Regions from separate parts of the Homo sapiens genome. Here region 2 is linked to region 1. Evidence: fine-mapped expression QTL. A gene starts in region 1. The other region holds a variant in brackets. All regions are shown on one strand. Distances are between the middles of the regions.

What was found.
Region 2: its variant is fine-mapped to the expression of ZNF821 in whole blood (INTERVAL, PIP 0.98).

Annotation. Positions count from the first base shown.
Region 1 is chr16:71,881,156-71,886,531 of GRCh38, reverse strand. It overlaps ZNF821 (zinc finger protein 821), which reads left to right and starts at 2,350. Exons shown (of 8, transcript NM_001201552.2): 1 at 2,350-2,624; 2 at 3,259-3,321. RefSeq lists enhancers at 984-1,484, 3,325-3,524 and silencers at 2,065-2,824, 2,845-2,964.
Region 2 is chr16:71,826,423-71,831,798 of GRCh38, reverse strand. No RefSeq gene overlaps it. Among named protein-coding and RNA genes, the nearest start is that of ATXN1L, 17 kb to the left of the region's middle. The variant G/AG (reference allele first, on the strand shown) is at 3,125.

The DNA.
Region 1 (5,376 bases):
AAATAGTTGAAGTGGCAAAATGATGACATAACTGTGAGTAGATTGGGAAAGTAGAAAAAAGTGAAGCTAAAAAAATATATATGGTTAATTAAAAGGTCTTCTAGATGTAGAACAAGTTTAGGTGAAAGCAGAGGAAAAATAAATTAATTCTTCTTTTTTAAAGAGACAAGGGTTTCACTATGTGGCCCAAGCTGGCCTCAAACACTTGGGCTCAAGTCATCATACCATCTCAGCCTCCTGAGTAGCTGGGACTATAGGTGCCAGCCACCATGCCTAACTTAAACTAATTACGTATTTAATAATTTTTTCATTATTTGGTTGTAACCTTGAATCACAACACCTCTGAGAAATTTTTAGAGCACAGGGAAGTCATAAGAATAGCATTATTATCATCTCATTTTATTTGGAAGTCAAGGAGATGGAATAAGCTGCCCAACATTACATAATAATAATGCATCCAAGAAATTTCACTGGAGGCAAACTTTACCTGTTTGCTACTTTTCTGTTGAAAATGTCAACTAAGTCAGCTTTAAAGTGACATAATAAAGCCATACTTGTATCCCTCAGTCCAAACTGATCAAGAATTACTGTTAAATATAAAAGCCAGTGTGTATTCTAGGTTGTATTCTTACACAAAATAGTACAAACACTTGCGGGTTGGATGATAATATTCCATTTTCTGTCTACTTGGAAACTAAGTTTTTAAATGAAATTAAAATGTTTCCTTGACTGAAGTTAAACAACAATAATTGCTATCTAAGTATCCTAATCACAATAAATAAATGAGTGAATGATGAATGAGCTATTTATCACAGAATTGTGAAGGACCAAGATCCCTCAATGTAATCATTCTATTACATTGAACACAAGATGCAGACAATGAGATCATCTCATAAAAGATTTAGGGGAAAGACAATTTGCAAGAATGTTCTATGCAAATACCAGGACTTGTCACTTTATCAGCAAATGACAGCATCCTCGTTAGCCCTGCCTTTGTGCAGCCAGTAATCACGAAAAACATTTGCATGATGCTTTTAGCCATTTGTTTTACTTAACTGGCACAACAACCCTCGGAGAGTAAAGGCCAGGAATTATTGCATCATTATCCATTTGACATCTTAGGAAGCAGAGGCTCAGAACAGGGAAGTGACTTGCCCAAAGTCAACAGGCTGGTGGGTGGCAGAGCTGGGGCTCAAAGCCAGATCTTCTAATACCAGATCTCATCTTCTTTCCTCTGCATTCCCTGCTTCTCCAGGTAAGCGATGCCAGGGCAGGCTCAGGCATTCTAGAAGAGAGGAAGAAAAGAAGGCAACAGGAACTAGGAGAGAGAAGGACGTGGACAGGAGGAGGTGTTTGACTAGAAGTGCGTCCAACCAGGCCGGGCACAGTGGCTTACGCCTGTAATCCCAGCACTTTGAGAGGCCGAGGCGGGAGGATCACCTGAGGTCAGGAGTTCGGGACCAGCCTGGCCAACATGGTGAAACCCCGTCTACTAAAAATACAAAAATTAGCTGGGCGTGGTGGTGCACGCCTGTAGTCCCAGCTACTCGGGAGGCTGAAGCACGAGAATCGCTTGAACCTGGGAGGCGCAGGTTGCAGTGAGCGAAGATCGCGCCATTGCATTGCAGCCTGGGTGACAGAGCGAGACTCTGTCTCAAAAAAAAAAAAAAAAAAAAGGTCCAACGGCTCTCCATTGCCCCCAAACATCCCTCAAGTGACAACAGTGCCACAAGTTCCCCTGCCCCTGGGTCTGCAGCCAATGTTATTTTATCAGTTGAGAATCATGTCAGAAAATTAAATACTCAAAAGAAATCTCAAGATTTCCCAGCTCTGAGGTTCTGACAGCTGAACTTGGCCCCTCCCACCAAGGCCCGTGGTCACATTCAAAGCCTCGGGAGCCGAAGCCACCGCGAAGCGTGGGGGAATGAGGCGAAGAGGGTTTGTGACGGTGGTGGGGATCCGGGCTAAGGAGAGGGGGTGCCTGCGGCGGAGCTGTGGTTGGGGGTTGTGGGTTTTGTGGCTGAACTCGATGGTGGGGTAAGAAACCAGGATCGGGGCTGGGTAGGGTGGCGTTTACACGTCCAGGAAGGTCTGGGGGAGCTGAGCGGCTGAGACAGCCAGAGAAAGACCCGGGAATGGGCGAGGCGGGGGGTTCCGGAGCCCTGGAACGCGGGCGAGCCCCTCTCGGGCGCCCGGGATTGGGCGCTCCCCGGAGCCCCTCCTCTCCAGAGCCCCTCTCCTCAGGCCCCGCCCACAACGCCAGGCGCGCGCCGGGCCGCGGGGAAGGGGACCTGGCCGGCGCGGGGGAGGGGGAGAGGGAGGCTCGTGCACGCGCCTCACTAGCTGCGGGTGCGCGAGCCGCGCGCTCCCGCCGCCCGCGTCGCCATCTTTTTCCCCCTCCGTCTGTCTGTCTGCTGTTGGCTTTGTCCGTCTGCAGCGCCGCCCCTCGGCTCCCCGCCACCGGCTCGGCTCGGCCCGGAGCCCCTTCCGCTCGCCGGGGCCCAGTCCCGGAGCGCCCCGGCCCGGCTGGCTTGGGCTGCGGTCCCGGGTCCATTGTCCGGCGGTCCGTCTGTCCGGAGGCGGGGCCCAGGGACCCAGAGCGCAGCGCAGCGCCGAGGCGCCGGGTAAAAAGACCCCCTGCCCTCCCTCCGGGTCCGGGCTGGGGATGCGGGCTCCTCGCCCCCTCGCGGCCGCCGGCTGTTGGTCCTTTTGTCTGCACTGGGGAGAGGGCCGGGGGCCAGCTCCGGCCTAGGGGGGCAGCCCGGGCTCACCCTCCCCGCTTCCAACCCCAATTCCTCCCCGGCCGCTCCTCCTGCTGCCCCTTGGCGCTCTCGGGCGCGGGGCGCGGGGTGCGGGGCCGGGGGGCTTTTGCGCGGGCCGCGGGCACCCCGCCTCCTCGGGCCCCGGCGGGGACGGCCCCGGCGTCTGACAGCCTTGGGTGGAGCTGGGGGAGGGGAGGATGGGCGTGGGCGTGCAGACCGGGGGGTATCAGTCCCCGCGTCTGGGTCTCGCAGAAAAGCTTCTAAATTTAGATTTCGGAGATTGTGTTGTCTAAGGGTTTGTCTGAGCCGCCTCGGAAGACCTCCGGCTCTTGTCAGGCTCTTGTCTGGTAATTCCTGGGAATTTACCTGGGCTCATGCTTGAAGAAGCAGAGGGACCATCTCGGCTGATTAGACACGCCCCAGACCCAACCCCAGGGGTCAGGTGAACAGCCAGGCGGCTAAGTGACCAGCTTTCTTGTCCTCTCCTTTTTGGCAGATACAGATCACTTGGATTCAGTCGAGTTTGCTTTGCTCCGTGGGAACTGCACCAGAGCTGGAGGTGGGAACGCACTCTCTTTTCATCAAGCTGAGATTTCACTCGTTTTTTTTCTTGCCAAAGTCTGTGGTGTGCCCTAGACGCTGCAACCTAATACCTGTGGGAGAGCAGAGACAGTGTTCAGGGGAGACGTTGCACCTTCCCGAGGACTCTTAACCTTGCTCTGAAGACAGACAGAACTGCTTTCCTTTTAAAATGGAATCCCTTTAGACCTGAATCTCACCGTTTACCTGTCTTCCCAGCCCATGTTCAGGCAGCTATCTATTTACATTTTTGGTTTGGTTTGGTTTCAGGTTTTGGCTTGGAAATTGAGGCAGTGTTAAAAGTAAAACAAAATGAGTGACCTTTAGGGCTGTATGTCTCTGGGTTTTATTAGCTTTAACTGCCTATAAAACAAGTCATCTGGCCTCTGAGATCTTGCTTTGTGGTCAAGAGTGTCCTTTCAGCGCCATTTATTTATTTACTTATTGATTTTCAACAGCCCATGACCCCACAGGCCTGTTTTTGTGGGTGTTTTTGTTATTATTTTCGTTTCGTTGTGTGGGAGGGGACTGTAATTGCTTATTTTTCTCTTGATCACTCAGGTGTGAAGTCCCATTGGGTACCATCTGGTCAGTTCCCCATTTGGCCACTAGGAGGATTATAAGATGCAGCGGGCATTGCTGATTTAAATACGCAGACACTCATCTCTGTCTTTTGACTTGGAGCTTTAATATTGAAATGTTGTCTGGTTCAAATTATTTGGCCTTCCTTCAGAAGGGACTTTATTACCTTTATCTTACAGTTTCAGTTTCTGATCTTGAAGGGAGAAAATATAAAAATTAGTCAAGATTCTGTTTTTTCTTCTATAATAGAGTATATATATATTTAGCCTCAATAGATTATCACATTAGAGGAGTATATTTTATTTTTTTAAATTTTTATTTATCTTTTTTTTTTTTTTTTGAGACGGAGTCTCGTTCTGTCGCCCAGGCTGGAGTGCAGTGGTGCGTTCTTGGCTCACTGCAACCTCCGCCTCCCGGGTTCAAGCAATTCCCTGCCTCAACCTCCTGAGTAGCTGAGATTACAGACATGCATCACCACGCCCAGCTAGTTTTTGTATTTTTAGTACAGACGGGGTTTCACCATGTTGGCCAGGCTGTTCTCAAACTCCCGACCTCAGGTGATCCACCCGCCTCAGCCTCCCAAAGTGCTGGGATTACAGGCGAGAGCCACCGCCCATGGCAGTTTTTTATCTTTTTTTGAGATGGAGTCTCACTCTGTTGCCCAAGCTGCAGTGTAGTGCCTCCATCCCAGCTCACTGCAACCTCCCCTCCCCAGGTTCAAGCGATTCTCATGCCTCAGCTTCCCGAGTAGCTGGAATTTACAGGTGTGCACCACCATGCCCAGCTAATTTTTGTATTTTTATTAGAGGTTTCCCCATATTGGCCAGGCTGGTCTCAAACTCCTGGCCTCAAGTGATCTGCCTGCCTTGGCCTCCCAAAGTGTTGGGATTACAGGCGTGAGCCACGGTGCCTGGCCATATTTTTAAAAATATTAATAGAGCCTGCATTTCATTACCTTTCCACTTGGTGATTCCACACACATATAGGAAATCCAAAGTGTGATATTCATTCACTGCTTCCGTGAATAAAACAACTACTTGATTAGAAAAAAATGACATACACAAAACTTAGAGAACATACACTATCAGCACTCAGTATATTGCCCTCTAAATAGTTTAAATTGATTTTTATTGTATACATTTAGAGTTTTGTTTTGTTTTGTTTTTAATTAAAGGTCTGAAAAAGAACTGTGTTTGATATGCAGATATGCTAGAAGACTGCCTGAAAGCTGCTTCCTTTGCCACTTCCTGTGGAGGCCTGTCTTTGCCATTTGCGGTTTCTTTATTCTTTTGGTAAGGGGAGGCAGGATCTGATTATAGGTTTGAGGTCCTTCTAGCTACATAGAGGAGTTAGTTGGCATAACAGGAGGTGAGTCTTCATTAACTGGAGTACAAAATATAGCTAGCAGTAGTCTCCCATAACTCCTCTTAAGGCAATAAACTATGATTTTATG
Region 2 (5,376 bases), 55 kb after region 1:
TATAGAAATAAGTTTTGCATTGGAGGCAAAGCAACTTGGATAAAGGTCTCAAACTAGAGAATTGAACTTTATAAAAAAGCTAATGCCACCAGGCATGGTGGCTCACGCCTGTAATCCCAGCACTTTAGGAGGCTGAGGTGGGAGGATCACTTGAGGTCAGGAGTTCAAGACCAGCCTGGCCAACATGATGAAACCCCATCTCTATTAAAAATACAAAAAATTGGGCCGGGCGCAGTGGCTCACACCTGTAATCCCAGCACTTTGGGAGGCCGAGGCAGGTGGATCACGAGGTGAGGAGATCGAGACCATCCTGGCGAACATGGTGAAACCCCATCTCTACTAAAAATACAAAAAAATTAGCCAGGCGTGGTGGCGGGTGCCTGTAGTCTCAGCTACTCGGGAGGCTGAGGCAGGAGAATGGCATGAACCTGGGAGGCGGAGCTTGCAGTGAGGGGAGATCGTGCCACTGCACTCCAGCCTGGGCAACAGAGCGAGACTCCGGCTCAAAAATAAATAAATACGTAAATAAATAAAATAAAAATACAAAAAATTAGCTGGACGTGGTGGCAGGCGCCTGTAATCCCAGCTACTCAGGAGGCTGAGGCAGGAGAATCGCTTGAACCCGGGAGGTGCAGGTTGCAGTGAGCCGAGATTGTGCCATTGCACTCCAGCCTGGGCAACAGAGTGAGACTCTGTCTCAAAAAAAAAAAAAAAAAAAAAAAAAAAAGCTAAAGCCAAGAAAACTGAGCTGATTTCTTTTTTAAGAAAGTACACATTGGCCGGGTGCAGTGGCTCACGCCTGTAATCCCAGCACTTTGGGAGGCTGAGGCAGGTGGATCACGAGGTCAAGAGATAGAGACCATCCTGGCCAACATGGTGAAACCCCGTCTCTACTAAAACTACAAAAATTAGCCAGGCGTGGTGGTGCATGCCTGTAATCCTAGCTACTCAGAAGGCCGAGGCAGGAGAATCGCTTGAACCTGGAAGGTGGAGGTTGCAGTGAGCTGAGATCATACCACTGCACTCCAGCCTGGAGGACAGAGCGAGATTCCATCTCAGGAAAAAAAAAAAAGAAAAAAAAGAAAGTACATATTTGACTAAATGTAACTGGCTTAGTAATATAAAGGAAGCTAATGAAATTTAGAAGTTTCGACTTTTGAACATCTGACATCATGACCACATTTACATAATTCAAAACTGACATTCAATGGAACACAGAGACCTGGCCACAGCAGTTGCTTCAGGCTGGTGGACATTTTTTGTCATTCAGGGTGTCCATTCTGATTGGTTAGTGCCATGTAGTACTGGTTCTTGAATATATTTACTGTCACCCTTGACATAATTCAAATACTTATCACAAAATCAGAACTGTTGATTCAAAGTTTGGATTTTTTTTGAGACAGAGTCTTGCTCTGTAGCCCAGGCTGGAGTGCAGTGGTGCGATCTCAGCTCACTGCTGTATTTTTAGTAGAAACAGGGTCTCGCCATGTTGGCCAGACTGGTCTTGAAATCCTAGCCTTAGGTGATCCACCCACCTCGGCCTCCCAAAGTGCCGAGATTACAGGCGTGAGCCACCACGCCCGGCCTTTTCTTATGTTCACTTTCTTCCTCATATTCTGCTTGGTTTGAAGTTCTCTAACTCTGGAATAGGGCTGTCTTATACATTCACAAGCAAGGCCCCTTTTTGTTGCTAAATTATACATCATCTAAAAAAAATATACAGTAGTCCCTGCTTATCCGTGGGGAACACTACCAAAACCCCCATTGGATGCCTGAAACTGCAGATAATACCAAACCTGAGTAAGTTTCTGTACATGTTTCCCACCCCCAAAATTAAGGCTTTTTCCATCCTCACTAAGCATTTATCACGCTCTACGACCAAAAGTTTTGCAGTTTGTTTGAGCTGCGACAGGCAAACTAGCATGAATTTCTTTTTCCTTCTTCACAATTTCACAAATAGAAGATTTGTTCTTGGCTGAGCATGGTAGCTGACACCTGTAACCCTAGCATTTTGGGAGGCCAGGCAGGTGGATCGCTTGAGCCCAGGAGTTAGAGACCAGCCTGGGCAACATGGTGAAACCTAAACCCTGTCTCTACCAAAAATTAATTTTTAAAATATTAGCCAGCTGTGGTGGCACGTGCCTGTAGTCTCAGCTACTCAGGAGGCTGAGGTGGGAGGATACCTTAAGCCTGGGAGGCAGAGGTTGCAGAAAGCCGAGGTCCTGCCACTGAACTTCAGCCTGGGTGACAGCGAGACCCTGTCTCAAAAAAAAAGAAAAAAAAAAAAAAGATTCATGCTACCCATAGATCTTTGCTCTTTGCAACCTTACCGTATGATTTTTTTTCTATCCTTACACTTTTTTTTTTTTTTTTTTTTTGAGACGGAATTTTGCTCTTGTCCCCCAGGCTGGAGTGCAATGGCATGATCTTGGCTCACTGCAACCTCCACCTCCCGGGTTCAAGTGATTCTCCTGCCTCAGCCTCCCGAGTAGCTGGGATTACAGGCGTGCACCACCATGCCCAGCTAATATTTGTATTTTTAGTAGAGATGAGGTTTCACCATATTGGCCAGGATGGTCTTGATCCCCTGACCTTGTGATCCACCCTCCTTGGCCTCCCAAAGTGCTGGGATTACAGGTGTGAGCCACCATGTCCGGCCCATGGTAAGTACTTTTAAGATGGGAAAATTGACTTAAAGCTGAGGTTTTTATTGTGCACTGAAAGATTTTTTTCTACTTAGTCATGTGGCTTCTAGAGTAGCTCTGGAAGAATTGTAAAGCAGGTAAAATTTGTACTTTTTCTCTGCCCACATACTATTCCTAACAGACCCTTATAAGTGGTTAACAATAGAGTAGAAAACAAAAAAACGAAGGTACCTAAAAGTGTTATATCCAGAAGTGTGTGAAACATTTTTAGTTCTTTTCTCCCCCATCCTCTAATAAAAATACAAAAAAAAAAAAATTAGCTGGGCATGGTGGCGCATGCCTGTAATTCCGGCTACTTGGGAGGCTGAGGCAGGAGAATCGCTTGAACCCAGGAGGCAGAGGTTATGGTGAGCTGAGATCACACCATTGCACTCCAGCCTGGGCAACAAGAGCGGAACTCCTTCTAAAAAAAAAAAAAA[G/AG]AAAAAAGAAAGAAGAGTATGGGTTCAGGAGTGAAACGATACATATTCAAATCCTTGCTCCACCATATATTAACTGTGAGACCTCAGGCCAAGTGTCAACAACTCAGTTTTCTGGGTTGGGGATAATAATATTTCCTAACTCATAAGTTTGTTGAGATGACTCAATTAGCTAATACACATAAGGAACTTAAATGCAATGCCTGGAACATAACAAATGTAATCAAATTTTGCTTTTGCTTTTTTTTCATTGTAATCATTATCATGGGGGTGAATTAAGCTTCCAGAAGATGGTCATGAACTGTCTTAGGACAAGAGAGATTTTCCCCTAATGCATCTCACATCATTCCATGTAGGGAGCTACTTGTTTTAGTGATTGATTAAGCTGTCTCTGGTGACTTCTTTATAAAGGATGGCTTCATACTTGGGTGCCAAACTTCTGCTTAGTGCAGGCATGAAGCAAAAAGTCTGTTCCATCTCCTGTGTTCCCACTGCTCTGCTTTCAGATTGCTGGATGTATCATGTTGGATTCCAGAGAATGGGGCACATTTATCTTTGCTGATGATGGTTTCCTGATAGGGATTCTTTTACTCTTGTTCTCTTCCAAAGAATTATATAGCTTTTTGAAAAATGACACATTGTATACATTTAAACAATACAGAAAGGGACTTTAAAGCAGTAAAAGACATATGAAATGCCACTAGAGATGTGCTCAAGGGCTTAGTCTTTGGACCTCTTCCCAACTCTTGAGCTGACTTCATCCAACCACATGTTTTTCAATACCTTCTTTATGGTGGGGGCTTCTACATGTATAGCATTACCTAAGGCTTCTCAGTTTATATGAGCTCCAGGTTCATATATCCTCCTGCCTTCTTGACATCTTCACTTGAGTGTTTCATAGACATCACCAACTTAACACGTCCCAAAGTGCTCTCACCCCTTCCAAAATATCTACCTATTCTACCGTTAATGGTAATTCTATGCTACGACAAAAATACTCATATCTTCCTTGATTCTTCCCTTTCTCTCAACCCCTACCCATCCAGGCTGGAGTGCAGTGGTGCAATCTTGGCTCACTGCAACCTTTGCCTCCTGGGTTCAAGTGATTCTCGTGCCTCAGCCTCCCAAATAGCAGGAATTACAGGCACACGCCACCTCGCCCAGCTGATTTTTTTATTTTTAGTAAAGACAGGGTTTCACCATGTTGGCCAGGCGGTCTTCAACTCCTGACCTCAAGTGATCCACCTGTCTCGGCCTCCCAAAGTGCTGGGGTTACAGACATGAGCCACTGCACCTGGCCTCCAGTGCCTTTTCATTTCTTTTTTTTTTTCTTTGAGATAGAGTCTCACTCTGTCACCCACACTGGAGTGCAGTGGCTCAATTTCAGCTCACTGCAACCTCTGCCTCCTGGGTTCAAGCAATTCTCCTGCCTCAGCCTCCTGAGTAGCTGGGATTACAGGCGACTGCCACCACACCCAGCTAATTTTTTATATTTTTGGTAGAGATGGGGTTTCACCATGTTGGCCAGGCTGGTCTCGAACTCCTGACCTCAAGTGATCCACCCATCTCCACCTCCCAAAGTGCTGGCATTACAGACGTGAGCCACCACACTTGGCCATATTTCACTTAGAATAATAGGCAAAGTCTTTCCCACAACCCATACCTTCCCTCCCCATCACTCTGACTTCATTCCCCCCAACCTTCCTCCTTGTTTACTCTGCCTTAGCCACACTGGCCACTTTATGCTTCTTCAAATGCCCAAGAACATTCCAACGTCAGGGCCTTTGTATCTCCTTCCGGTATTCTGTGTTCTCTAGATATCTGCCTCGTTCCTCCCTTACTTCCTGGAAGTCTATACTTAAATGTTCTCTTCTCTGTGAGGCCCTCCCTGGCTATCTTCTCTAAAATGTCAACCTCCTCCCTCTTCTCTGCTATTTTTTTTTTCCTCTGTAGCACTTATCTCTAGCTCACATCTTGCATAGTTCACTTAGTGATCGTGTTGATTATTCGTCTCCCCCACTAGAATGTCAGCTCCATGAGGGCAGGGACTTTTGTCACAGTTGCATCCCCAGCCCTGTTCCTGTCTGTTCATTTTGTCAAATGAATGAATAAATCTGGAGTTTACCACTGCTAAAGTTTAATAAACTTTCTTGTAGACCTATCTATTCGTATTTACAGTTAGCTCTTAACTGTTTGTGTGCTAGTGTCTAACCTCATAGGTACTGAAAACATAGGCATGGAAAGAGAGAGAAGGA